7 separate regions of the Homo sapiens genome follow, and all the other regions are linked to region 5. The links come from fine-mapping of genetic effects on gene expression. A gene starts in region 5. Each other region holds a variant in brackets. All regions are shown on one strand. Distances are from middle to middle. Region 1 overlaps SYN1 (synapsin I). Region 2 has its middle 12 kb from the start of SPACA5. Region 3 has its middle 39 kb from the start of ZNF182. Region 4 has its middle 20 kb from the start of SPACA5. Region 5 holds the start of ZNF630 (zinc finger protein 630). Region 6 overlaps PORCN (porcupine O-acyltransferase). Region 7 has its middle 5.5 kb from the start of SPACA5B.

Evidence for each region. PIP is the estimated chance that this variant, and not a neighbour inherited with it, causes the effect.
Region 1: its variant is fine-mapped to the expression of ZNF630 in whole blood (TOPMed, PIP 0.97).
Region 2: its variant is fine-mapped to the expression of ZNF630 in thyroid (GTEx, PIP above 0.99).
Region 3: its variant is fine-mapped to the expression of ZNF630 in whole blood (TOPMed, PIP above 0.99). The same link has a PIP of 0.9 or more in blood mononuclear cells.
Region 4: its variant is fine-mapped to the expression of ZNF630 in whole blood (TOPMed, PIP 0.92).
Region 6: its variant is fine-mapped to the expression of ZNF630 in sigmoid colon (GTEx, PIP above 0.99).
Region 7: its variant is fine-mapped to the expression of ZNF630 in tibial artery (GTEx, PIP 0.98).

Annotation. Positions count from the first base shown.
Region 1 is chrX:47,573,427-47,577,504 of GRCh38, reverse strand. It overlaps SYN1 (synapsin I), which reads left to right. Exons shown (of 13, transcript NM_006950.3): 6 at 4-66; 7 at 865-1,007; 8 at 1,099-1,173; 9 at 1,272-1,374; 10 at 2,231-2,377; 11 at 2,730-2,817; 12 at 2,915-3,503. Among named protein-coding and RNA genes, the nearest start is that of TIMP1, 7.0 kb to the left of the region's middle. RefSeq lists enhancers at 1-55, 1,098-1,598, 1,691-2,197, 2,198-2,705. The variant T/AT (reference allele first, on the strand shown) is at 1,850.
Region 2 is chrX:48,016,969-48,021,046 of GRCh38, reverse strand. No RefSeq gene overlaps it. Among named protein-coding and RNA genes, the nearest start is that of SPACA5, 12 kb to the right of the region's middle. The variant C/G (reference allele first, on the strand shown) is at 1,617.
Region 3 is chrX:47,963,411-47,967,488 of GRCh38, reverse strand. No RefSeq gene overlaps it. Among named protein-coding and RNA genes, the nearest start is that of ZNF182, 39 kb to the left of the region's middle. The variant C/T (reference allele first, on the strand shown) is at 1,784.
Region 4 is chrX:48,024,691-48,028,768 of GRCh38, reverse strand. No RefSeq gene overlaps it. Among named protein-coding and RNA genes, the nearest start is that of SPACA5, 20 kb to the right of the region's middle. The variant T/C (reference allele first, on the strand shown) is at 1,872.
Region 5 is chrX:48,069,921-48,073,998 of GRCh38, reverse strand. ZNF630 (zinc finger protein 630) reads left to right here and starts at 2,359. Exons shown (of 5, transcript NM_001282201.2): 1 at 2,359-2,732. RefSeq lists a silencer at 2,021-2,217 and an enhancer at 2,129-2,388.
Region 6 is chrX:48,517,388-48,521,387 of GRCh38, reverse strand. PORCN (porcupine O-acyltransferase) reads right to left here. Exons shown (of 15, transcript NM_203475.3): 15 at 580-1,013. The coding sequence ends at 912. Among named protein-coding and RNA genes, the nearest start is that of EBP, 2.4 kb to the left of the region's middle. RefSeq lists a silencer at 680-739. The variant T/G (reference allele first, on the strand shown) is at 1,856.
Region 7 is chrX:48,123,066-48,127,143 of GRCh38, reverse strand. No RefSeq gene overlaps it. Among named protein-coding and RNA genes, the nearest start is that of SPACA5B, 5.5 kb to the left of the region's middle. The variant T/A (reference allele first, on the strand shown) is at 1,760.

The DNA of each region.
Region 1 (4,078 bases), 500 kb after region 5:
CAGCTCAGCAGTACAACGTACCCCGTGGTTGTGAAGATGGGGCACGCACACTCTGGGATGGGCAAGGTGAGTCTCTGGCTGGGCTGTGCATAGGTAGATGTGTATTTGTGCAATGCACACCAGTCATTCTGTGTGATCGCGTCTCCTGGGGTGTCGTTATCTATCAGGTTGGTGCAAAAGTAATTGCGGGTTTTGCCAGTTCTTATGGTAAAAACCACAATTACTTTTGCACCAACCTAATAGATTTTTGTTTTCTCACATTCAGCTGACCTCATCGACCCCTTTTTCCTCCTGCATTCAGCCAATTTTGTGTGTCCTGTTATTTTGCTTGTCTCCAGCATCGTGTCTGTGTGTACATGCATGCCTGTGCCGAACACACATGATGTGGTGTGATCTTTTATGTTCCAAAGTCTTGGGGTCCTGTGTGCTTTACATCCATCTGATTTTGTCTCTGTGTACGTAGAAAGTAGACTTGTAATTTGTGTCCGAGTTTCTGTATCTTAGCATGTTGTGTGTACAATTGATTTTGTGTCTGGATGCCTATATTAGTATATTGTACATACACAGTTTTTTCACAGCTTTAGTGAGAGATAGTTCACACACCCTACAACTCACCCATTTAAAGTAGACAATCCAATACATTTTGGTATGCTCAGTGTTCTACACACCCAACTTTGTGCCTGTGTGCTCACATACAAAACAGGAGACCCATGATCGTGCCTGCTTGAGCGCCTTGGCATGTCCACCTAATTTTTGTGTACTCGCCTCACCTGTGTGTCATGTATACATGCTCCCCCAGGCACCCCCACTCCCCACAGCTGCCCTATCCTGACCAGGCCCTGATCCTTGCCCGCACTTCCACAGGTCAAGGTTGACAACCAGCATGACTTCCAGGACATCGCAAGTGTCGTGGCACTGACCAAGACGTATGCCACTGCCGAGCCCTTCATCGATGCCAAATATGACGTGCGTGTCCAGAAGATTGGGCAGAACTACAAGGCCTACATGTGAGTGGAGAGACCAAAGCCCTGGAAGGGGTCCCCTGCCTTGCCTCATGCAGCTGAGGCACCCCTGAGCTTCTGTCCCCTTGTCCCCCAGGAGGACGTCAGTGTCAGGGAACTGGAAGACCAATACTGGCTCTGCGATGCTGGAGCAAATTGCCATGTCTGACAGGTGGGCAGCCCGAACTCAGGGTGTGAGGGGAAGCGGGGGTGGGAGCACGACAGCTCAGGTGAGAGACTGACAGGCTTCCCCACCCTTTGTCTTGGCAGATACAAGCTGTGGGTGGACACGTGCTCAGAGATTTTTGGGGGACTGGACATCTGCGCAGTGGAAGCGCTACATGGCAAGGACGGAAGGGATCACATCATTGAGGTATGAGCACCCAGGGGTAGGTGGGGTAGAGGGAGGAACAGATGCCAGGCAGCAGCAGTGCAAACTGAAGCACTCCATGGCACAGAGGTCCTCAGCCAACAGCAATGTGCTTAGTACACTGTAAGGTGCCTGACGAACTTTCGAAGGGGCCATCCCTTGCAATGGCAGAACACTAGACTGAACTTGCACGTCCCTGGTGACTAGCAAAACCCTTATTAGATTGTTTAGTGCTCTGCGAATCGAGACATCTTGGTGAATGGCGAGGCACTTAGTAACCTTTAAAGTATTCTGCGAACTGGACCGACAGCAAAGCATTTTGGAAAGGACAAAGCACCTAGAAAACCGTGAAGCAGGGATCGGCAAACATTTTCTGTAAAGGAGCAGACGGTACATATTTTAGGCTTTGTAGGCCACGTAGCCTCTGCCGTAACTACTCAACTCTGCAAAAGCAGCCATAGACGATATGTTAAAAAAA[T/AT]AAGTGTGGCTGTGTTCCAATAAAACTTTGTTTATGGACATTGAAATTTAAATTTCATGCCATTTTCGCATGTTATAAAATCTTTCGATTTTTTTCAACTGTTACAAAATTTAAAGACCCATCCTTAGCTCTGGGTCATACAGAACCAGGTGGTCGGCCAGGTTGGGCCCATGGGCCCTAATTTGCTGAGCCCTGCTCTGAAGCACCTTCTAAGCTGTAAGGTACCTTGGAACAGACAAGCCTTCCTCACCGTGCACAATCAGTGCCTCAGACACTGGGGCTCAGCGGCGGCCATGCCCTTGGCCAACTGAAAGCACGGTGTTACTGCCGCCTCAGGTGCGAGGCCTGCCTCTCCCCTCACGGATCCTTTCCTTCCCCCAGGTGGTGGGTTCCTCCATGCCGCTCATTGGTGACCACCAGGATGAAGACAAACAGCTCATCGTAGAGCTCGTGGTCAACAAGATGGCTCAGGCCCTGCCCCGGCAGCGACAGCGGGATGCCTCCCCTGGCAGGGGCTCCCATGGCCAGGTCAGGCCCCTGGCGCTGAGCTAGTGGCTTGAGCTAGTGTGGGGAGGCCGGCCCTGGGTCATGCTGTGCCATGAAGCTGATAATCTGTAGGCTCACAGCATCACCTTTGCACACATGTGGCTGCGATTGCCAATTGTTTAAAACATTGATAAGCAGCTGCTGCCCTGACTTCCCTGAGCACCTCCCTGCCCCGCCCCTGGGAACAGGTCCCCCACCCCACAACCCAGAGTACCCTCAGCTCAGCCACAAGTGGGGCAACACCCAGCGCACAGGGAACCTGTGTCATCACTGGCTGATGCTCCACTGGCTGGTAACTATTTTTAACCTCTCCTGCTCCATTCCTCTGCCGCAGACTCCGTCCCCAGGGGCCCTGCCCTTGGGCCGCCAGACCTCCCAGCAGCCCGCAGGGCCCCCGGCTCAGCAGCGACCCCCACCACAGGGTAAGCGAGAGGCTGGCGGTCGCAGTCCCCTCCCTCAGCCCGCCATCTCTTACCCGCTCACTCTCACGTGTGCTCTTTCTCTCCCTCTGTCCCCCAGGCGGCCCTCCACAGCCGGGTCCAGGCCCCCAGCGCCAGGGACCCCCATTGCAGCAGCGCCCGCCCCCGCAGGGCCAGCAGCACCTTTCAGGCCTTGGACCCCCAGCTGGCAGCCCCCTGCCCCAGCGCCTTCCAAGTCCCACCTCAGCGCCCCAGCAGCCCGCGTCCCAGGCCGCGCCGCCGACCCAGGGTCAAGGCCGCCAATCCCGGCCAGTGGCGGGAGGCCCCGGGGCGCCTCCAGCAGCCCGCCCGCCCGCCTCTCCGTCTCCCCAGCGCCAGGCGGGCCCCCCACAGGCTACCCGTCAGACATCCGTCTCTGGCCCGGCTCCGCCAAAGGCCTCTGGGGCCCCACCGGGCGGGCAGCAGCGCCAGGGCCCGCCCCAGAAACCCCCAGGCCCAGCCGGCCCCACACGCCAGGCCAGCCAGGCGGGTCCCGTGCCCCGCACTGGGCCACCCACCACGCAGCAGCCTCGGCCCAGCGGCCCGGGCCCCGCTGGACGTCCCAAACCACAGCTGGCCCAGAAACCCAGCCAGGACGTGCCGCCACCCGCCACCGCCGCTGCAGGGGGACCTCCGCACCCCCAGCTCAAGTAAGGGGACCCCTACAGCAGCCTTCGCCTTGCTGCTCACAAAGCGGGCCGCTGCCCCAGTAGAGCAGCCCTAGCTCCCTTGCTCCTCAGACCCAGGTCCTATGCAGGGGTCCCACGAACTCTCTCCAGCCTGAGCCAAGCCCTTCCCCCAAGCTTTCGCTCCTCCCGGCCCACCAGAGGCTCCGCACCCCCACCCCAGGAATTTGGTGCCAGAATCCCAGAGAAACTGCACTCAGTTCGAATTCCTCCTCAAAGGCCCTGGGAAAGTTTCCTCCTCCAGGGCCTCCCAGGCACCTGGCTGACCCACCCTCTGCAACTTCCTGCCCAGCCCAGAGCCTTCCCTGCCAAACTCGCCCCCCCGCCACCAACCCATCCCTAAAACTCCTGGCCCGAGTCCTAGTCCTCCTATCATCTGGCTCTTCCCACTCCATCCTCATACTTTTCCTCCTCCTTCACATCCTTCTGGCCCATCTCAGTCTCCCCGCGAATCATCACCCATCTGCCTTTTCTGGTCCATTCCAACTCCCATCCCAGCTCAGACGTCCTCCCTGCCCCACCCAGCTGCTCTGCCTTAG
Region 2 (4,078 bases), 53 kb after region 5:
CATTGCAGTTAAGGAACAAAAAAGTTTTGGTGTTCTATAGCACTGCTTAATAACTATAGTTAGCAATAATTTATTGTACATTTTCAAATACCTAGAAGAGAGGATTTTGAATATTCCCAACGCAAAGAAATGATAAATATTTGAGGTGATGCACATGCTAATTACCCTGATTTGATCATTACACATTGTATGCATGTATTGAAATACCACTCTGCACCCTACAAATATGTACAATTAAAAAAATTTAATCATTAAATTAAAGAAAACCACAGAACAACTTTGGCTGCTAGCACCGACGGCTTTGGGAACGGTACTGCGCATGAGCAAGTATAGTGACTGGCAGTACCTAATTAATGCAGGATAAAGGTCGGAAAAAGGTGGCTGTCAGAGGAAGTTGTGACTGATTTTGGAAACACAAGGGGACCTTGCCTGAATAAGCATTCGGATCTTAACATCAGAGCAGGGTATGAGGCGGGGCAGAGAGTTTACATCGAACGGAAGTGAGAGGGCTGGTGGTCTGCGGACAGAGTCGTCATTTAACCTCTTTGTGCCTTAGTTTCTCTAACTGTAAAATAGGGATGATGATGTTAATGATAATAATAATAATACCTGCCTTGTATGGTTGTTGTGTAGATCAATTGAGTCAATATAAGTGTTTACAACAATGCCTAGCACATACGTAAGTCTTATATATGAGTTTAATATTATTATTATACTATTATTAATACCATAAAATGGATACATATAAACACATAAAATGGAATAGGGAAGTAGAGCAAAACCAAGGCCAGGTTGAAATGTCTATATGTAGATCATAGGATTCTACATAATTATGTTGAGCTACAGTTATTTTTCTGAGCTTCCTAGAAGCCACAACATAGAGGGGGAAAAAAGCTCATTTGCTTTATTTATCTCACCCATACAGAGAAAGTAAGCCACTTCCTCAGAAGCAAAGATTTCTTTGATAAGACAGTTCTCTGATGCGTCAGCCAAGTCCCTTATCAGCAATCTTGTGATAAATACAGAGATAGGATTGCTCTGCTGTGACTTAAAATATGTCTGCATGTCAACCAAAGGTGTCCTGCTAAAGCAGAACTAAAAATATGTGACTCTTCAGGAAATCAAAGCCATGTCTGCACAAATAGCTCTTATGTTCTGGCTCAATATATGGACCTTGATCATCAGGAAGAATCAGTAAACCTCATGCCCTTCAAATTCTTTTCTGATCTATATGTAGTTTTTCCACATCTGGGGTTTCAGAACAGCCTGAGCAACCCAAAGGTCTGCCCTTTTCCTTTTTAGGCTCAGAATTCATGATGTCCCTAAGCATGTTCAGTACTTTCCCTTCTGCCCTTTTTAAGAAAGTCTATATTATTTTGTCATTTTTTTCTCTTCCTACAGAAGTGATTTAGAAGTGGCACACCAAAAATCCAAACTCTTGAGGAATATACAATCTGAAAGGGGGAATTCACTTATAATCTCATATCACCACTCATTCCAAATAACCAATTTCTGATGAATTTGGTTAATTTCCACCTATACACCTCTCTCTCCCCCTTGTTCTTTCTCTTTATATTTACATACACATATAAATATATACGTATGTAAATGTCTTC[C/G]TTTTGCTAAAATCTGCTCATTATGTAAAACTGTTTTGCCATTCCATTTGCCCAGAATAGTATTAATAATGGTCATAGTGGTAATGATAATGATAATACAAATGATAATGATAACAAAAGTGACACAACAAGAGCCGACATGTAGTGAGCTCACACTGCACCTGACACCATACTAAGCATTATATATGCATGATCACTTTTAATTCTCACAATGACCTTAGGAAGTAGGTACCATTTTTATCTACCTCTTACAGCTAAGGAAGCTGAGTACCAGAGTGGATAAGCAGATTGCATGGGCTTGCACAGCTGCTCACTGGCATAGCTGGAATAGCCCCTACTTAATGAACACTTGTTGATGGAAGGTATTTCAGTATCAGGACATAGAGATATTTTTAAGAGATGCTTTTTTTTCTTGTATGCATGTACTACGATTTATTAATCAGCCCCATATTGAAGGACTTCTGTGTAATTTCTGCTACAGTGTGGCAGTGATCTCTCTTGTCGTCTTTTTCTTTAACTTTTATTTTAGGTTCAGGGGTACATGTGCAAGTTGGTTATATAGGTAAACTCATGTCACGGGGGTTTGTTGCACAGATTATTTCATCACCAAGGTACTAAACCCAATGGTTATTTTTTTTTTTCATCGTCTCCCTCCTCCCACCCTCCACCTTCAAGTAGGCCCCAGTGTCTGTTGTTCCTCTCTTTGTGTCCATTAGTTCTCATCATTTAGCTCCCACTTATAAGTGAGAACATGCAGTATTTAGTTTTCTGTTCCTGTGTTAGTGTGTTAAGGATAATGGCCTCCAGCTCTATTCATGTTGCTGGCCTCCAGCTCTATTCATGTTGCTGCAAAGGACATGATCTTGTTCTTTTTAAAATTGTTATTATTATTTTTTTGTAGAGACGAGGTCTACAGATGAGGTCTTGTTATGTTGTCCAGGCTGGTCTTGAACTCCTGGGCTCACATGATCCTCCCACCTTGGCCTCTCAAAGTGCTGGGATTACAGGCATGAGCCACTGCACCTGGCCTGATCTCATTCTTTTTGATGGCTGCATAGTATTCCATGGTGTATATGTACCACATTTTCTTTGTCCAGACTACCATTGATGGGCATTTAGGCTGATTCCATGTCTTTGCTATTGTGAATAGTGCTGCAGTGAACATATGCATGCATGCGTCTTTGTGGTAGAACAATTTATATTCCTTTGGCTGTATACCCAGTAATGAGATTGCTGGGTTGAATGGTAATTCTCTCTTTAGCTCTTTGAGGAATTGCCACGCTGCTTTTCACAATGGTTGAGTTAATTTACATTCCCACCAACAGTGTATAAGCATTCCCTTTTCTCTACAACCTCAGCAGTACCTGGTTTTTTTTTTATCTTGTCATCTATCTTTGTACACAGTGGTGAGCATTTCTAGAGTGTCTGGTTCAAAAGGTGGGCACGTTTTGAACTTTCATAGACATTGCCAAATTGCCTTTTGAAAAGTTAGTACAAGTTGACACCCCCCACTAATAATGAATGAAAATACCCTTTCTAATCTTCTTGTCATGGTTTTAATCCTTGCCATTTTTTTTTAAATTTTTTTAGTATTTATTGATCATTCTTGGGTGTTTCTCGGAGAGGGGGATTTGGCAGGGTCATAGGACAATAGTGGAGGGAAGGTCAGCAGATAAACATGTGAACAAAGGTCTCTGGTTTTCCTAGGCAGAGGGCCCTGCCGCCTTCCGCAGTGTTTGTGTCCCTGGGTACTTGAGATTAGGGAGTGGTGATGACTCTTAACGAGTATGCTGCCTTCAAGCATCTGTTTAACAAAGCACATCTTGCACCGCCCTTAATCCATTTAACCGTTTCTGGACATAGCACATGTTTCAGAGAGCACGGGGCTGGGGGTAAGGTTATAGATTAACAGCATCCCAAGGCAGAAGAATTTTTCTTAGTACAGAACAAAATGGAGTCTCCTATGTCTACTTCTTTCTACACAGACACAGTAACAATCTGATTTCTCTTTCTTTTCCCCACATTTCCCCCTTTTCTATTCAACAAAACCGCCATCGTCATCATGGCCCGTTCTCAATGAGCTGTTGGGTACACCTCCCAGACGGGGTGGCAGCTGGGCAGAGGGGCTCCTCACTTCCCAGATGGGGTGGCCGGGCAGAGGCGCCCCCCACCTCCCAGACGGGGCGGCGGCCTGGTGGGGGCTGCCCCCCACCTCCCTGACAGGGCTGCTGGCTGCGCAGGGGCTGACCCCCCCACCTCCTGGACAGGGCGGCTGGCTGGGCAGGGGCTGACCCCCCCACCTCCCTCCCGGACGGGGCGGCTGCCAGGCGGAGATGCTCCTCACTTCCCAGATGGGGCGGCTGCCGGGCGGAGGAGCTCCTCACTTCTCATACTGGGCGGCCAGTCAGAGACGCTCCTCACCTCCCAGACGGGGTGGCGGCGGGGCAGAGACACTCCTCAGT
Region 3 (4,078 bases), 110 kb after region 5:
AATGGTGGTACAGGCATTGGGTAAACATTTCCATTTCAAAAGAGAGAAAGCAGCCAAAAAAAGGGGGCAACAGGCTCCACACAAGTCCGAAACCCAGCAAGACAGACATTAAACCTTAAAGCTCCAAAATAACCTTCTTTGACTTCATGTCCTGCATCCAGGGCACATTTGTACAACAGGTGGGCTCCCAAGGCCTTGGGCAACTCTGCATCTGTGGCTTGGCTGCGCTCACAGGTTGGAGTTAAGTGCCTTCAGGCTCAGGGTGCAAGCCACTGGTAGTTCTACCACTCTTGGGTCTGGGGGGCAGTGGCCCCATTCCTACAGCTCCACTAGGCAGTGTCCCAGTGGGGACTCTGCATGGGGGCTACAGCCCCATATTTCCCCTTGGCACTGCGCTAGTAGAGTCTCTCTGTGGGAGTTCTACCTTTGTGGAAGGCTTCTGCCTGGCCATACAGGCTTTCCAATACATCCTCTGAGATCTGGCTGGAAGCTGCCAAGCCTCCTCCATTCTTGGATTTTGTGCACCTACAGGCTTAACACTATGGAGAAGCCACCAAGGCTATGGCTTGTGCCTTCTAGAATGGTGGCAAGAGCAGTGTCTGGGGCCCTTTGAGCCAAGGCTAGAGCTGGAGCAGCGGGGATGTGAGGAACAGCCTCCTGAGGTGGTGCAGGACATTGGTGCCCCGGCCCTGGCCCATGAAACAATTCTTTCCTCCTAGCCCTCTGGGCTTGTGATGAGAGGGACTGTCCCGAAGGTTTCTGAAATGCTTTTGAGGCCTTTCCCCCATTGTCTTGGCTATTGGCACTTGGCTCCTTTTCAGTCATGCTAATCTCTCTAGCAAGCGGGTGCTCCAAAGCCCACTTGTATTCCTCTCTTGAAAATGCTCTTTCCTTCTCTACCACATGGCCAGGCTGCAAATTTTCCAAGTTTATTTTTGTTGTTGTCTGTTTGTTTGTTTTTGAGATGGAGTCTTGCTCTGTCACCCAGGCTGGAGTGCAATGGTGCGATCTTGGCTCACTGCAACCTCTGCCTCCCAGGTTCAAGTGATTCTCCTGCCTCAGCCTCCCAAATAGCTGGGATTACAGGCACCCACCACCACACCCGGCTAATTTTGGTATTTTTAGTAGAGACGGGGTTTTGCCATGTTAGCCAGGCTGGTCTCGAACTCCTGACCTCAGGTGATCTGCCCATCTCGGCCTCCCAAAGTGCTGGGATTACAGGCATGAGCCACCACGCCCAGCCAAATTTTCCAAGTTTTTATGCTCTGCTTCCTTTTTAGATATGAGTTCCAACTTTTAAGTCATTTCTTTGCTCCCATATCTATCCATATGCCTCTTTTTGAATGCTTTGCTGCTTAGAAATTTCTTCTGGAGGAGGTGGAGGTTGCAGTGAGCCAAGATCATGTCACTGCACTCCAGCCTGGGCAACAGAGTGAGACTCTGTCTCAAAAAAAAAAAAAAAACTAACTAAAGATCACATATGACTGAGAAAATATTTGTCATCTCCTTCGATCATATTATCATATTATTTGCTCTTTTTTTTTTTTTTTTTTTTTACTTTTAACTGAAAAGTAAACTTTAATGTTGAAAATGCAAACTTGGGGAAGACAGAAAAGATCACACACAAGGCTGTCACTTCACACTTGGAAGGTTGCACAGCAGCCGGGCAGAGGCGCGCCTCACTTCCCAGACAGTGGGCAGCTGGGCAGAGGCGCTCCACACTTCCCAGACGGGGCGGCAGGCTGGGCAGAGGCGCTCCTCACTTCCCAGACAGGGCGGCAGC[C/T]GGGCAGAGGCGCTCCTCACTTGCCAGATGGTGGGCAGCCAGCCAGAGGGGCACCTCACTTCCCAGACGGGGTGGCCAGGCAGAGGCGCTCCTCACTTCCCAGTTGGGTGGCTGGGCAGAGGCACTCCTCACTTCCCAGAGAGTTGGGCGGCTGGACAGAGGCGCTCCTCATTTGCCAGACGGTAGGCAGCTGGGCAGAGGCGCCCCTCACTTCCCAGACAGTTGGGCGGCTAGGCAGCATATTATTTGTTCTTATCCACAAACCAGTAATATGTCTTCTTTACTCTCTTGACAATAAAAGAATCACATTCAAAAAAAAAATTTCTTCTGCTGGATACTCTAGGTCATCAGTCTTAAGTTCAACCTTCCATAAATCCCTAGGGCATGGACACAATGCAGCCAAATTCTTTGCTACAGCATAACAAGGGTGACCTTTGCTCCAGCTCCCAATAAATTCCTAATTTCCATCTGAGACTTCGTCAGCCTGGCCTTCACTGTCCATTTCTATCAGCATTTTTTTTCGTTGTCAAGACTCAACACAATCTATCAGCATTTTGGTCACATTCATTTAACCAGTCTCTAACGTTAAAGTTCCAAGTTTTCCCTCATCTTCCTGTCTTCTTCTGAGCCCTCCAAACTCTTCCAACCTCTGCCCGTTACCCGGTTCCAAAGCTGCTTCCACATTTTCAAGTATCTTTATAGCAATGCCCCACTTCTCAATACCAATTTTCTGTTAGTCCATTTTTGCATTGCTGTAAAGGAATACCTGAGACTCAAGTAATTTATGAAGAAAAGAGGTTTATTTGGTTTGTGGTTCTGCAGGCTGTACATGAAGAATAGTGCCAGCATCTGCTTCTGGTGAGGTCCTGGGGAAGCTTACAATCATAATGGAAGGTAAAGGGGAGCCAGCATGTCACATGGTGAGAGAGGGAGCAAGAGAGAGGGAGGGGAGAGGTGCCAGACTCTTTTATTTTTTTATTTCAATAGCTTTTGGGGTACAAGTGTTTTTTTGTTACATGAATGAATTTTATAGTGGTGAATTCTGAGATTTTAGTGCACCCATCACCCAAGTAGCAAATATTGTACCTACTGTGTAGTTTCTTTTTATCCTTGGCCCCTCTTCCCTCTCCCCCTTCTGAGTCTCTAAAGTCTATTATATCACTCTGTATGCCAGCCTCTTTTAAACAGCCAGATCTCACATGAACTCATAGAGTGAGAACTCAATCATTACCACAAGCATGGTACCAAGCCACTCATGAGGGATGTGCCCCCATGATGCAAACACCTCCCACTAGGCCCTACCTCCAACATCAAGGATCACATTTCAACATGAGATTTGAAGGGGATAGACATCTAAATCATATCAGACACTAACCTCATCATGGGGATTCCACTCTTGTGACCTCATCTAATCCTAACTACTTCCCAAAGGCCCCTCTTCCTAATACCATCCCATTAAGGTTAACATTAAGGGTTTTGACATATGAATTGGGCAGGGAAAGGGGACACAAACATGTGATCTGCACACTACCCAAGTACTTTTCTCTATACCTTTTGGTTTGTTTGAAATATTTCATAATTTTGAAAAATAACTTTAAAAATAAAAAGTTAGGCCAGGCATGGTGGCCACACCTATAATCTCAGCACTTTAGGAGGCTGAGGCAGGTAGATTGCTTGAGCTCAGATGTTCGAGACCAGCCTGGGCAACATGGCGAAACCCCATCTCTACAAAAAAATATAAAAGTCAGCCAGGCATGATGTTGCATGCCTGTAGTCCCAGCTACTCGGAAGGCTGAGGTGGGAGAATTGCTTGAGCCCAGGAAGTTGAGGCTGCAATGAGCTGATATTGTGTCACTGCACTCCAGCCTGGGTGACAGGGCAAGACCCCGTCTCAAAAAAAATTAGGAAAATGCTAACAAAATGAAAAATGGACATAAAATTTGAAAACAAAAACATTAAGTGGGACAAAGAAGGATATTTTAATAATAATAAAAGGTAACATTCATCAGAAGACATGGTGGTAAGGCATGTTTATGTACCTAACGACATAGATTTAAAGTCAGTGATGAACCCTCAATTACAGAGACAGAAATTATCACACATCTCTTAAACAGACAAAAAATAATGACTCATTTGAATAGCACAATTATTAAGCTTGATCTATGTCTGATACATGGATATGGGTATACATACACATATTTAAATCCAATGAGGAATACACAGGAAACATTTACAAACATAGATGACTCAGAGAATCCCAACAAATCATAGAGACACTTTGTTTAGGCACAATGT
Region 4 (4,078 bases), 45 kb after region 5:
TGTCACTGGCAGAGATCAAGGCAGGTGTTGAAGGTGAGGCTGCCTTGGAAGCAGAGGCCTGCCATGGCTGTCCCCTCACCCTGGCTCGTATTGTGTTGTTGCACTGATTTATCAGAGCACATCCAATTTGGGATCCTCTTGTCCCTTGAGGCTCCATACAACCCGGGATGGTGAATTTTACGTGTCAACTTGCCTGGGCTACAGGGTGCCTAAACAATGGATCAAACTGTCCTGGGTGTGGCTGTGAGTGTGTTTCTGGGTGAGCTTAACCTTTCTCTGGAAGACTAAGTGAAGCTGACCTCCCTCCTAGATGTGGGGGGCCCCACCCAGCCAGTTGAAAGCCTGAGGCAAACAGGACTGCTGACCCTCCGTGAGTCAGAGAGGACTCCTCCTGCCTGAGTGCTGGGGCTGGGACATCAGTTTATTCCCGCCTTGGAGCATGCGCTAAAACGTCAGCTCTTCATTGGCCTCAAGTCTGCTGGCCGTCACACTGGACCTGCACCACCCACTCTCCTGGGTTCCCAGCTTGCCAACTACAGGTCTTGGGATCTGTGGGCCTCTGGGCCCATGTGGGCCAATTCCTTACGATAAATCCCACATATCTCCACATAGACGTAGACATATCGCCTCCTATTGGTTCTGTTGCTCTGCAGAACCCTGACTAATAGATGACCTCTTCCGTGCATCTCAGGGTTCCCGCTCAACTGGGGGCCTGGCTGGTGGTGGTTTATTTGCACTATGAGGGGGCGGCCTTGCCGGTGATGTTCCTTGTGATTTAGGCCAGGTGGGGCATTGTTTTCATAACTGCAGGCAACACTGGGCTGTGAGTTTGTCCTCCATGAGATTCTATTCCATCCAGGGCAGCCATGGCCTGGTGGATTGTTTAGCCTTAGCCATCGCTGACAGAAATCAGGACTTGTACTTGTCAGGTGCTCCCTGAGAAACTACTGTGTGGGCTCAGCACTCCATTCAGCCTCCTCAGACTATAGAGTCCTCATGCCCTGCCATCTGTCACCAGATAATCCCACTGGAATGTGCAGAGCTGATGGAGGACATCTTTGGCCTCAGCTAACGTTTTCCACCGCCATTCTGCCCAGGGGGTTGTGAGGCCTCGTGTAGGGTGGGCAGCTTTCCAAGCCACCAAAATTCACAAAAATGCAAAATCCATACTGACCAGGTGTACATGGACTGCAATGCAAAGCCTCCTGGGAGTCACTCTCAGCTTCTGTACTAACTGTGCAGAATCCTTTAGTAGGGAAGCCACTTTTCCATACCGTCCTGGGGCAGCCAAGTGCTTCACTTCAGCCCCTGTCAGGTGGAGCTTGCTGTGCTCTGTTCGATACATTGTCTGTAGCTTTTTTCTTTTCTTTTCTTTCCTTTTGACGGAGTCTCGCTCTGTCGCCCAGGCTGGAGTGCAGTGGCGTGATCTCGGCTCACTGCAAGCTCCGCCTCCCGGGTTCACGCCATTCTCCTGCCTCAGCCTCCCCGGTAGCTGGGACTATAGGCGCCTGCCACCACGCCCGGCTAATTTCTTTTTGTATTTTTAGTAGAGACGGGGTTTCATCGTGTTAGCCAGGATGGTCTCGATCTCCTGACCTCATGATCCGCCCGCCTTGGCCTCCCAAAGTGCTGGGATTACAGGCGTGAGCCAGCACGCCCGGCCATCGGTAGCTTTTTCATTTGGTTCCCTGGCTAGGTCCTTACGGACAGGCAGGGGCTCCGGGTGAGACAGAGGGTGTCTCCTCCTCCAAATGAGAAATGGCCTCTCCTTCTTGACCCTCCCCTGTTGTCTCTTCTGTTTTTTTGACTTTGCTGTTGGTGACTGGCAAAGGAGAAGGTCAAGTTCCTCACTCTCTCATGGTGGTATTGTG[T/C]CGCGTCATCCTCTAGAGGGCGCCAGTCCTCTTCTCCGGGGTCTTCTACGCCTTCTGGTCTCCTCTGATGAAAGAAGATTATATGACCACAAGGTGGCGTAGCACAATAAGGGTTATTATTATTCTATGCCCCGATCATAGACTAGAGTAGACAGCCAGGCTTAATGTGGCTACTATGAATGAGAGACCTACCCTCTGGGCCGTGTCCTGGCGAGAAGCGCGCAAGCCCAACATGGGTCCCCTGGTTTGGATTCAAGAGGACAGCCACCTCCTTTGGAGTCCTGGTTGGGACAGCAATATAAACGTCTTTAGTCACGTGAAGTAACAGTTTTGCCCCACCTCAACAAATTTGGGGTCTTGATATTGCTCCGGAAAGGAACAGAAATGATGTCATCTGTAATAGCAAATTCAAATGCGACAAGAACAGAGGCATGCTAGCTGTTTACAAAAGCGCCTCCCCCAGCTGTGCTTAGGGGATCCACGTCAGCCCGACATCGCTGCTTTATAGCCATGTTCACGTGTCATATGCGTCTCAGGGTACCCAAAATCACAGGGCCAACTCACGGGGCTCCTACCACTCTAGCCAGTCATGGGGTCAGGATAGCCTACCCTCAGTCCAGAGATGTGTACTCCCCCAACCTTTTGTGTTCAGACCCACAGGCCTTATAGCGCCCTGTGCGTGCCCCAGCATTTCCCTGCCTAGTGGGGCTCCAGGCGGGCAGGGTGACCTCCTTCCCCAGGCAGTTCCACACCTGATCCCAAAAGTCAGTTCTAATGAAGTGGATTCATTCAAATACTGGTGTTACTGCTTGGCCAGGCTAGTGAGGCACAGAGAAAACCCACAAATGTAGAGTATGTGACACAGCACAAAGCAGTCCCATGCCAAACTGATGCAATGGCATTCCAAGTTTAGAGTTCCACCGCTTGAGACCATCCAGGATTCTTTTACCAATTATTTGTCCTACTGTCTCCTATCTATTTCATGATTACCAGAAATCCTTCCCTTTTCCTCTTTGTCACTTACAGGGAGTTTGAGCGATTTAGGGCGCTGATGAAGGAAATAAATGACCACAAGGTGGCGTAGCACAATAAGGGTTATGGGGTGATTCTGTGACAGGTTTGCATGAAGTCCCTCACAGCCCGAGCCTGTACAGAGGTTATGGCCACTGGTCAACTATTCGGAAGGGCAGAACGACAAGGGAAGTGCTGGGGCATCAAGACGGGGGCTTATTTGTCTAGGTGATGTCATTCAGCAGCAAAGAGAAAATTCTCTGGGTCAGAGAACTCTGAAGGGCAGCAGCAGCAGCTTTGGGTATTTTATGGCCTGGGGCCTAACTTATCTATTCCCCAAAGATGAAAGATGTAGTACCAGGTTTTCTGGGGTATGTAAAGCAGGAAGACTCTCAGTGGCTAAAAATCTATGTGTTTGGGCTATTTATGAAATATTTGGGTATGTAAAAATTTGTTTGGTGCCAGCAAACTTTTGAGTTAAGGGGTCTCAGCCTGCAGTGAAGAAATAAACAACCTGGGGGTCAAACATAGAGGCCATCTTTGGCTTACTTATATAACAGTAAAGGCATAATTCATTCTATCTGGTCCTTAGAAATTCTGGCATAAAAGTTTAAGGGTAGAGAGTTATAGTAACAAGATAAGGATGCCTACTTTTGTCACTTCTATTAAAGATTGTACTCAAAGTTCTAGCCAGATAAATTTTCAGGCAAAAGAAAGAAATAAGAGATGCCCAAATTAGAAAGAAAGTAAAACTATTTCTATTCCCAGATGGTATGATTTATATATATATAGAAAATCCTAAATAATCTGCAAAAAAAACAACTGTTAGAACTCATAAACAAATCCTGCTAAATGGCAGGATGCAAGATCAACATACAACTATCAATTGCTTTTCTATACACTATCAATGAAAAAGCCAAAATGGAAATTAAGACAACAATTTTGTTTACGATAGGATAAAAAGAATAAAATACTGAGAAATAAAGTTAGCCAAGCAGATGCAAGACCTGTACAAAACATTGCTGAAAGAAAGTAAAGAAGGCCAGGTGTGGTGGCTCACGCCTGTAATCCCAGCACTTTGTGAGGCCGAGGCGGGTGGATAACCTGAGGTCAGGAGTTCAAGACCATCCTGGCCAACATGGTGAAACCCCGTCTCTACTAAAAATACAAAAAAAATTAGCCAGGCATAGTGGCGG
Region 5 (4,078 bases):
GCTTTGAAGATGGAGGAAGGGACCATGAGTCAAGGAATACAGGTGACTTCTAGCAGAAGCTAGGTAAAGCAAATAAACAGAGTTTCTCCTAAGCCTCTGTAGGGAGTGCCCAGTGAAACCCATATCATATTTCTGACATGTAGGACTGTAAGATAATAAATTTGTGTTGTTTTGAGCAAGTAAGTCTGTGATAATTTGCTATAGCAACAACAGGAAATGAATACAGGCATCTTTGAAATATTCCATCATTGATGGCCCGTCTGGTCTATACTCAAACCATGTCCTTCTTAACTCTTCCACCATCCCTATCCCTCTGACCTCACCTCAAACCCCAGCTGTTGTTAGCAATTCCACCATCAAAGTCTCTTATCTGTGCTCTCCAACCTGGGCTTCTATTAACTCTTCCAACCTAAATCAACCCTTAATTTTACCTTGAACTGGGGAATCTGTTATCCATTCCACTATTAATGGGTTTGGATCTAGAGAGAGAATTCAGGGCTTTGAGGGTGGAAAATTAATAATCCTGGGTCTATGTGTTAAGCTTGAGTTTCTGTTCACTTTTCCATCACCAGGGCAATTTACATGTGAATCTTTTTGCATGTCTGTTAACTCTTTCCCCATTACTGCCCCTCAGTTCTTGCTCACTGCAACCTCCACCTCCCAGGTTCTAGTGATTCTCATGCTTCGGCCACCCAAGCAGCTGGAATTACAGGCATGCACCACCACGTCTGGGTAATTTTCGTATTTTTAGTAGAGACAGGTTTTCGCCAAGTTGGCTATGCTGAGTCCTGGCTTCAAGTGATCTGCCTGCCTCCACCTCCCAAAATGCTGGGATTATAGGAGTGAGCCACTACGCTCTGCATCCCTCAGATCTTTACACTGACTGCAGGCCTCAGTTGAGTCCTCTCCATCTATGATCCTTTGGTATGTACAGAAAATCAAGGCTGTACTAACTTTTTAGCTACTTGTGCCCCTTCTCCTGTATCCACCAACCCCAATCCTCAGTTAACATTTATTTTTATAGAGATGGAGTCTCACTATGTTGCCCAGACTGGTCTTGATCTCCTGGGCTCACATGATCCTCCCGCCTCAGCCTCCCAAAGTCCTGGGATTACAGGTGTCAGCCACTGTGCCCGGCCCTCAGTTAACATTTTTTTCTTATTTTTATTTTTTGAGACAGAGTTTTGTCTCTCCCCCAGGTTGGAGTGCAGTGTCACAGTCTTGGCCCACTGCAACCTCCACCTCCCAGGTTCAAGCGATTCTCATGCCTCAGCCTCCCAAGCAGCTGAGACTACAGGCATGTGCCACCACATCTGGCTAAATTTTGTATTTTTAGTAGAGATAGGGTTTTGCCATGTTGGCCAGGCTGGTCTCTAACTCCTGGCCTCAAGTGATCCTCCCGCCTTGGCCTCCCAAAGTTCTGAGATTGCAAGTGTTAGCCACTGTGCCCAGCCCTCAGTTAACATTTTTATCATGAATGCCATTTGGTTTGACTTTGAAGTCAGACCTTGATTAATTCTTCCACCATCATTACCCCTTTGGTATAGGCTGTGAATTCCGGGGCTCTGTTAACCACATCACGTGACTTTAATGGGTCTCTGGTCTTGGCTCAGATTTGGGTCTAAGTTAACCTTCCATTTAAGGCCTCTCTGAAATAACTTTGGAATTGGGTTACTATTGCACCACCAGTGCCCCTCTGATTTGATCTTCAAGCAGGATATTTGTTAATGTTTTCTCCATCCATACACCCTGATAGAGGTCTTGAATCCTAGGACTTTCTTAACTATTGTAACCATCAGAGTTCCCGTTTTGTATCGAACATGAACCTTTGTTAACTCTGCAATCCTGTTCCGGGCTGACTTCCAATCCAGCCCTTTGTTAAGTCGTCTAAAACCAATGTCCCTTAGGTTTTACCTCGAACCTCTGACTCTATGAACTCTTTTAGTTTTGATACGGGCTGCAAAAGGCCATATAAGCCTACTTGAACTAGGGCAGGCAGAAGTCCAGGCTGTAAATGACAGGTGAAGGTGGGCCCTTCCGTGTTCAAAGGAGCCAATGGAGGACCGGTGGGCAGTGAGTGACAGATGGGGGCGGGTCCTGACGCCAAGCAGGAACAATAGGAAGGCGGCAGGGCGCCGAGGCCAGGTGGGGAGAAGTGGGCGGGTATGTGTGAGCCCCCTGAAAGGCTGCATGATGTCAAAGGTCTCTTCCCTTTCTCCAGACGTTTTAGGAATTCGCTTCTGCGGAGGAATCTCCCGGGGGGTGCTCTGTCCAGCCTTCCCACTTTCCCCGTTTCCCACCCTGCCATGTCGCCACGCCTTTGCTCAGGCCGTGCCTCTTCTGGTGGCCGGGAACGCCCACTCACCCGGACAAGTCGCGGCCCTTCCAAGCCTCACACTGCTTTCGTAGGATCAATTCCGAATACCCAAACTCGGAGATATCACGAGGACTCCCCCGGGCCCCCAAACGCACCTCTCCTCTGGCTGGAATGGGAGCCTCCAGAAGCAGTGCGAGACCACGGCCAGCGACAGAGGTCCTGGCGCTGGCGGAATGACGCCATTTTTGTTACTGGTAGAGCTCGGCTTCGTGGCTGTTTCGGAGCCACCGAAAGATAAGCTCCCTCGTCACCCTGACATCTCTCCGGGAAGACTGGAAGGGAAATGGCCTTTCGGGGGATGTTGAACGCATTTGGGCAGGCGGGGAGCCAAGCCCGGCTTGAGAGCAGAGCCGGGGTGAGGGGCCTGGCTGAGTGCTGCGGGTCTATGTGATCAGTGACGGATGGAGACAAGTGGAGGGCCTGAGGAGGGGATTGAGTGACGTGGAGAACAGTGATAGGGGAGCCTGTGGGACCAGGGGTAACAGTATGTGGGTTATGCAAATGGGAGTTTGTGGGGTGATGGGGGATCTGTGCGGTGTTTGATGATGTCTGTAAGGGTGAGTGATGGGGCTTCTATGGGATGGGTGAAGGGAGTCTGGGGTGAGTGATGGGTGGTCTGTAGGGTGAGGGATGCTGATCCGTGGGGTGAGTGGATAGGGGGATCTGGGGTGAGGGATGAGGGTCTATGAGGACAAGAATGGGAGTGTGTGTGGGGTCAGTGTTGACATTCTGTGGGGTCCATGATGGGTGGCTTTTTCAGATCAATCATATGTGCATGAATGAACAAAAATCTCTGCTCCTGTGGTGTCCACATTCCGATGGAGAAGTCCAACTTGGTGGTTTGATTTGTATTTCCCTCATGACCAATAAGTTTGAGCACATTTTCTTATATGGATTCATCACTTGGAGATCTTCTTTTGTGAGGGGCCTGTCTTTTGTTCATTTTTCTGTTGGACTCTCTGCCCTTTTCTTAATGATTTGTAGGAATTTTTTTTTTTTTTTTTTTTTTTAGACGAAGTCTCACTCTGTCGCCCAGGCTGGAGTGCAGTGGAGAAATCATGGTTCACTGCAACCTCCACCTCCTGGGTTCTAGCAATTATCCTACCTCAGCCTCCCGAGTAGCTGGAATTACAGGCGCCTGCCACCACGCCTGGCTGATTTTTTTGTATTTGTAGTAGAGACAGGGTTTCGCCATGTTGGCCAGGCTGGTCCCGAACTCTTGACCTCAGGTGATACACCCACCTCGGCCTCCCAAAGTGCTGGGATTACAGGTGTGAGCCACCGTGCCCGGCCAGGAATTGTTTTTATATATTCTGATACCACTCCTTTAGTAGTGGTATGTGTTTTGCAAATATCTCCTTCCAGCTTTTGGCTTCTCTTTTCATTTTATGGCTTTAAATATGAAGATTTTCAGTTAATTTTGAACTGTAAAGCACATTCTTCAGTTAAAAAGCAGACAATATCGGCTGGGCGTGGTGGCTCACACCTATAATCCCAGCACTTTGGGAGGCCGAGGCGGCCGGATCACGAGGTCAGGAAATCGAGACCATCCTGGCTAACACGGTGAAACCCCGTCTCTACTAAAATTACAAAAAAATTAGCTGGGCGTGGTGGCGGGCTCCTGTAGTCCCAGCTACTGGGGAGGCTGAGGCAGGAGAATGGAGTGAACCAGGGAGGCGGAGCTTGCAGTGAGCCGAGATC
Region 6 (4,000 bases), 450 kb before region 5:
CAGAACTCCTCAGTCCTAATAGCAGCGGTCATTCTCTCTTCTCCCGACCTCAAGTCAGAAGAACTAGTTAGAACCCAGGCCTCTCAGTCCTACTGACCAATTGGCATGAAGACCCTCAATCTCCATATGCCAGTTCTAAAAAGCCAATCAAACGCCTAACCACCAGTGGGCCCCCAGATGGAGCAATCAATCAGAATCCAGACCCATCCCAGACCTCCCATCCAATTAGAACCCACAACCCTCAGTCCTAAGGATAAATAGGCACCAACCCTTCATCTCTCTTGCTTTCTCTCCTCTGTGTCCCACTCAGAGCAACCAATCAGAATGGGGATCCTTCAGTTTTCCAGCCAATCAGGCCTCCCCCACATCCAACTATGCAATCTGTCCCTGCCCTGATCAAACCAAGCAGGACCAGGATCCTGCCATCTTCAGGCTCATCATCTAATCAATCATAAACTAACCATGAACCAATCACAGTCTGCTCTCTCTTCATGGTTTCCAGCTTCCAAACCTTTATCCATGCTGTGCTCCCTTCCTCACTCATTCCTATTCCCCTCTGAGCAGTGAAGAAGAAGCCTATTGAATATTTCCTACTTTTATTTGACAATAACAAATTGTATATAAAAAGGAAGAAGGAAGGCGGGGAGGCCCTGGATCTCCCCTTCTCTGTTTCCCCAAGCATCCCCCTCTAGGCCCCAGCAGGCACCACCCCCTTCCTGCCTTGTGGTGGGGTGGGGATTGACAGGCATGAAAATGGTGTGATTTTGTGTGTGTGTGTGTGTGTGTGTGTTGAGGTGTTGGGGGTCAAGGATGGAGGGGGTCAAGGAGTAGAGAGAGGGCCTTCCCTCATCCCCCATCAGTGGCACCCTGAGAGGGGTCTTAAGAGGGTTATGAGGGTCCACAGATGTGCCTCAGCCTATGAGACGGTAGAAGATCCAGCATCCAAAAGTGACCCAGTGACTGGCCCAGCTGAGCTCTGACCACTTGTGGACAGTGTATGCCATGCCGTAGCCCTGTGGGAGAGAAAGAGGTGATGGTCCCACTTAGCAAGGACAAAGAAGTTCTTAGGAAAACCCATCCTTTGCCCAAGGACATTTCTGTGACTGCTCTAGGCGAGGCCCCGCAGAAGGGCCTAGGTACATATGAAAGGTGACCAGATATAGTTTTTGTCTTCTTCTTTAAAAATCATTTTAAAAACAAAGTGATCCCATTCTCTGACCTGTTATCTCCCTAATATATAAAGAGCTCCTAAAAATTAATTTTTTGGAAAGAAAAATTGCCAGAGAAGGTGAATAGGTCATTCCAGTAAAGGAAAAACAAATGGCTCTTAAACATATGAAAAGATGCTCAGCCTCATTAATAATCTTCCTCATTTTATTTATTTTCTTTTTGAGACAGGCTCTCATTCTGTCACCCAGGCTTGAGTGCAGTGGCACGATCTGAGCTCACTGCAACCTCTACCTCCCAGGTTCAAGAGATTCTCCTGCCTCAGCCTCCTGAGTAGCTGGGATTACAGATGCTGCACCACCATGCCCAGCTAATTTTTGTACTTTTAGTAGAGATGGGGTTTCACCATGTTGGTCAGGCTGGTCTCGAACTCCTGACCTCAAGTGATCTGCCTGCCTGGGCGTCCCAAAGTGCTGGGATTACAGGCATGAGCCACCCCGCCCGGCCATCTTCCTCTTTATTGAAGTGGCAAACATATCCAGGAAGTCTGAGAGGCACTCTGTACTGGTGGGGCAGCAGGCACATTCAGGCATTGCTGGTGGGAGAGCACAAAAGTACTACTCCATTGAGACTATCAACAGATCCTACAGATCTGTCCACACCTGTGTGGATCCACTTGGGTACAGAG[T/G]TCCTGCTGCAACATCACTTGCAATAGGAAAGGACTAGAAATTACCTGATGTCCACAAATAAGAGAAAAAATAAACTGTGTCACTTCCTCATAGTGGAAAAAATGAATGAGGACACTATATCCTGATGTGGAAGATTTTCAAAAATTGCAGAACAGTATCATTCATGTGTTATCTTTAGGGTAAAAACTGGCAAGGGGGTAGAATTAAAATATATTTTTATATTTGTTTGATATGCTTAAATTTTGGAAAGATATTTTAATAAAAGGATAAAAGTGGGCTCAGTGCGGTGGCTCACGCCTGCAATCTCAGCACTTTGGGAGGCTGAGGTGAGTGGATTACCTGAGGTCAGGAGTTTGAGACCAGCCTGGCTAACATGGTGAAACCCCGTCTCACCATGTAACCTGTAAGAGGGTAGGGGGCAGAGGGTGGGAGCAAATCTTTTCTCTAAATATCTTGAATACTGTTTGGTTTTTGAAGCACATGATAGGCATTCACTATTTTAAAATATTTTAATGAAAACAAAACAAAAACTTTATTTAAAAAGAAGCAAAAAGCCAGGTGTGGTGGCATGCATCTCTAGTCCCAGCTACTTGGGAGGCTGAGGTGGGTGGACTGCTCGAGCCTGGGAGTTTGAGGCTGCAGTGAGCTATGATTGTGCCACTGCACTTTAGCCTGGGTAACAGAGTGAGACCGTGTCTCAAAAAAAAAAAAGAAAAGCAAATCCCAGATTTTGCACACTTAACCTGAATTAAAAACTTTTTAATATCAAAAAACACAAAGTTTTGTTTTTGACTGAAACCTAACTAAAAGAGAAGCAAAAACCTGGATTCTGCAAGAGCCATATGAATAAATGTTATTTTTAAATTGTTCTTAATTTAAAAAGGAGTAAAATCTGGTATTTGCATACTCAACATGAACAAAAATAGTGCATACATTTTAACGAAAAATTTTAAAGTGCAGAATCCAGGGTTTGTACACTCAACCTAAGTAAAATAAAATATATATTTTTTTGGCCGGGCGTGGTGGCTCACGCCTGTAATCCCAACACTTTGGGAGGCTGAGGCGGGTGGATCACCTGAGGCCTGGAGTTCAAGACCAGCCTGGCCAACATGACGAAATCCCATCTCTACTAAAAGTACAAAAATTAGCCCAGCATGGTGGTGCGTGCCTGTAATCCCAGCTACTCAGGAGGCTGAGGCAGGAGAATTGCTTGAACCCAGGAGGCGGAGGTTGCAGTGAGCTGAGATCGCACCATTGCACTCCAGCCTGGGCAACAAGAGCAAGACTCCGTCTAAAAATATATATATATATTTAAATTAAATAAAACAGGGTGCTCATGCCTGTTATCCTAGCACTTTAGGAGGTTGAGGCAAGGGGATTGCTTGAGCCTAGGAGTTCAAGACCAGCCTGGGCAACATAGGGAGACCCTGTCTCTACAAAAAAAATTAAAAAAACATTAGCCGGGCTTAGTGTCATGCACCTGTAGTCCCAGCTACTCAGGAGGTTGAGGCAGAAGGATGGCTTGAGCCCAGGAATGTGAGGCTGCAGTGGGCCGTGATCACACCACTGCACTTTAGCCTGGGTGACAGACCTTGTCTCAAAAAAAAAAAAAAAATTAAGAAGTCTTGCAAATTCTACCTAAACAATAATGAAGTGAAATAATTAACACAAGTAAAACCTGGATTTTCCACTCCATCTCTATAAAGTGATTTTTTTTTTTGAGAGAGTCTCGCTCTGTTGCCCAGGCTGGAGTGCAGTGGCATGGGCTCACTGTGACCTCCACCTCCTGGGTTCAAGTGATTCTCCTGCCTTAGCCTCCCGAGTAGCTGGAATTACAGGTGCATGCTATCACGCCTGGCTAATTTTTTATATTTTTGGTAGAGACGGGGTTTCGCCAGGTTGGCCAGGCTGGTCTTGAACTCCTGACCTCAAGTGATCTGCCCACCTTGGCCTCCCAAAGTGCTGGGATTGTAGGCGTGAGCCAGCATGCCCAGCCTAAAAGTTATTTTATAAGTAAAATAAATAAACATATTTTGCACACTTCACCCAAATAAAAGACCTAACAGTGTGACTCAAGCAGAGGGACTATGGGAAAGGACCGAGGAGCACTGGCTGCCCAGGCGAAGCAGCACAGTCTGAGGAGC
Region 7 (4,078 bases), 53 kb before region 5:
GAACCAGCTTCTCCAGTGCCAATGAGCCTCATTTCTAAACAATATGTAACATTTTTCTTTCTAATAAAACTTCCAACTTCTGTTTGTTCATTGCACATACTGAAGACCACCCTAGTCTGTGTGTATGCCCTGAATTGTAATTTTGTGATTCCCAAATAGAGCATTTGATTTAGGGATTTGTCTCTATAATTTATTTTGACTTTGACACAATTAACCAATATGATGTGTTTAAAGATCGCCCCACCCCCTGACAAGGTGATTATTATACTGAATTTAAAAATTCATTCTAGACCGGGCATGGTGGCTCACATCTGTAATCCTAACACTTTGGGAAGCCTAGGTGGGCAGATCACCTGGGGTGAGGAGTTGAAGTCCAGCCTGGCTAACATGGTGAAACCCCATCTCCACAAAAAAATACAAAATTAGCTGGGCCTGGTGGCTCATGCCTGTAATCCCAGCTACTTGGGAGGCTGAGGCAGGAGAATCACTTGAACTCAGGAGACAGAGGTTGCAGTGAGCTGACATCGTGCCATTGCACTCTAGCCTGGGCAATGAGATGAAAACTCCGTCATGAAAAAAAAATCATTCTATTATTATCTTGACAATTGCTTTGCTTTGCATCTTACTATGGACTTGTTGGATATCTAGGTGGCTGTAAACTAGGCAGAGAAAGAAACAGCAGTGGAGATAATTAGAATATTGCAGTGTTGCTATAAAAGAATAACAAAAGGGGGAAATTGTAAGGGTAACTAAACATAAAATTGAGATTTTCCTGTTGCCAAAAGGGCAAGAAGAGACTTCACTTTCCTTAGAGCATTTCCTCGAAAAAATTTGTACTTGTAAATTCCTCCTTTGATATGTAAGCCTCTGGCCACCCTATAACCCAGGAATGTCTTGAACTTGAACTCCAGGCCTCAAGTGATCCTCCAGCCTCAGCCTCCAAAAGTGTTGGGATTACAAACGTGAGCCACCATGCCCGGTCCCTATAAATGTCTTTCTTTAGGGCCTTGGAGCCGTCTTTTTGAAATGTGAACATCGAGGAAGATGATGTCACTGTCTCCCTGTCACCAGGGGAGTTTAGCCTAGATGCCTTGCTCCAAGCTGTAAGCACCTGCTTGTCACAGAAATATGAGTTTTATTTTTCCTTCAGATAAAGGCAATTAACTAACACAGATGGGTACTCCAATTACTTGGTGAACTTAGGGCTTGCCTGGGAGTATTTAGTTTTCACCCTTGGCTGCTGCTGTACAACTAGGCCAATTAGCTACATACCTGGACTTTCTGGTTTCTGCTACCACCTTTTTGATTTTTTGTTTGTTTTGCTTTATTTTGTTTTTGAGATGGAGTCTTGCTCTGTCACCCAGGCTGAAGTGTCATGGTGCGATCTCAGCTCGCTGCAAGCTCTGCCTCCCAGGGTCAAGTGATTCTCCTGCCTCAGCCTCCCAAGTAGCTGAGATTATAGGCACGTGCGACCATGCCCGGCTAATTTTTGTATTTTTAGTGGAGACGGGGTTTCACCATGCTCGCCAGGCTAGTCTTGAACTTCTGACCTCATGATCCGCCCGCCTTGGCCTCTCAAAGTGCTGGGGTTACAGGCATGTGACACCACGCCTGGCCTCTGCTACCACTTTTGGATTGTATGAAACACTACACTTCAAAGTGTGGGATCTGGCTTCCCAGACAGCTGCCAAAGGGGCAGATGATGCAATCTAGAAGTGTGGGGGAGTTCGTGCCTGTGGGGTAAATTTTGACCAATAAG[T/A]AAAAGAACCAGGAGTGAGAGCCAGGTATGTAAATTCCCTCTCCTGTCCTCTCCCCATGCACCGTTCCAAGCATGGCTTCTCAGTATAGTCTGTCTAGAGGTGTCCTGTATGGCCCAAAGCCAATGGGAATTCACACACTTGCAGACAGTGTTAAGTGTGGTGGAGGACCCAGATCTGGGCAGAGGAAAATTATCCCAATAAGGAAAAGGACAATTTTGAGGATTTGGAATAGAGGGAAGGACTAGAAAAACCAGTAGTAGAATAGCTTATGGGTAATATTTTTGGAGAAAAAGGCAGTTCTGGTGATTTTTGCAGTGAACTGCTCAGCTCTGTAGAATGTATACTTCCTTTTTTTCCATCAGTCTCCCCTATGAAATCGCCCATAAATTATCCTTTTATAACTATCTACTGCCTGTGAAGTGAATTTTCTTTTTTCTTTTTCTTTTTATTTAGAGATAGAGTTTCTGTCCACCAGGCTGGAATGCAGTGGTGCCACCTTGGCTCACTGCAATCTCGGCCTCCCGAGTTCAAGTGATCCTCCCGCCTCAGCTGCCCTAGTAGCTGGGAATACAGGTGCACACCACCAATGCCCGGCTAATTTTTTATTTGTATTTTTAGTAGAGAAGGTGGTTCACCATCTTGGTCAGACTGGTCTCAAACTCCTGACCTCACGAGATCCACCTGCCTCCGACTCCCAAAGTGGTGGGATTATAGGTGTGAGCCACCACACCCAGCCTGTCACTTTTCTTTTGGAGAACAAAACAAATTGAGTCTTGTGCCAAAATGCAGGGGAAGCTGCACACAGACAGGTAACAAAATATTATATACAATAATAGATAGGTTTTCTACATACCAATATCAATCATTTAGAAAACCAAATTGAGAAAAAATACACTTATATAGTGACAAAAGTACATAAAATATCTAAAACCAGATGATTGGAGCAAGATGGCAGATAGATGCCGTGCCCCACTCAACATTCTATCGAACTGGGAGAAAATATTTTCAAGGGTCAATTCTTAACAGTAGAGGAAAATAGGAAAACATGTCAGTGGTCCACCAGAAATATTGAGGCATTCCTGGGAGATAGAGTAGATGGGGTCAGACTGATAGAGAAACCCAAGGAGACAAGACCACAGCTCAAATCACTGTAGGCGAAAGATGCTGTTTGTTTTTTGAGACGGAGACTTACTCTGTCGCCCAGGCTGGAGTGCAGTGGCGTGATCTCGGCTCACTGCACCCTCCGTCTCCCAGGTTCAAGGGATTCTCCTGCCTCAGCCCCTGCAGTAACTGGAATTCACAGGAGCCTGCCACCACGGCTGGCTAATTTTTGTATTTTTAGTAGAGACGGGGGTTTCACCCTGTTGGCCAGGCTGGTCTCAAACTCCTGATCTCAAGTGATCTGCCTGCCTCGGCCTCCCAAAGTGCTGATATTACAGCGTGGGTCACTGCGCCCGCCCAGGAGATGCTCTTTGTAACAAATCAGCTTTCACATTCCCTCTTTTGATGAAGATCTTTCTTTGAAAACCTCACTGATCAGCCATCTGAAAGTGAGGTTTCATTGTCACTCCATACCAGGATGGACCTGTGCCGGTCTATGTCAAGAGAAAGGTAAGGGGTCTATATCAGGGACATGGGCCACATTTGAGCCATAAAGAGCCAGAAGGAAAAAGAAAATCAGGCAGGTTTGTCTGGAGTTCAGTATCAAGTTTCATCGTGTTAGTCCCAGCTGTATTAGCAATCATCTTGAAGCACTAGGCCAACATTATCCTGTTGGGAGAACTGACTTAACAAATATTAGGCAACAAGAATGGAGCTCAAAAGTCATAATACAAAAATAACTAGCAATTGTTTTGTTTTATTCTATTTTATTTTATTTTTACGATTTTATTGCGATGGATTCTTGCTCTGTTGCCCAGGATGAAGTGCAGTGGCGTGATCCCAGCTCACTACAACCTACATCTCCCAGAATCAAGTGATTCTCCTGCCTCAGCCTCCCAACTAGCTGGGATTACAGGTGCTCACCACCGCACCAAGCTAATTTTTGTATTTTCAGTAGAGAGGGGGTTTCACCATGTTAGCCAGGCTGATCTCAAACTCATGACCTCAAGTGATCTGCCCGCCTTGGAATCCCAATGTGCTGGGATTACAGGCATGAGCCACCGCACCTAGCACTTTGGGAGGCTGAGGCAGGAGAATTGCCTGGACCGAGTAGATAGAGACCAGCCTGGGCAACATAGTGGGATCCTGTGTCTACAGAAAATACAAAAACTAGCTAGATGTGGTGGTGTGTGCCTGTAGCTACAGCTAGTTCGGAA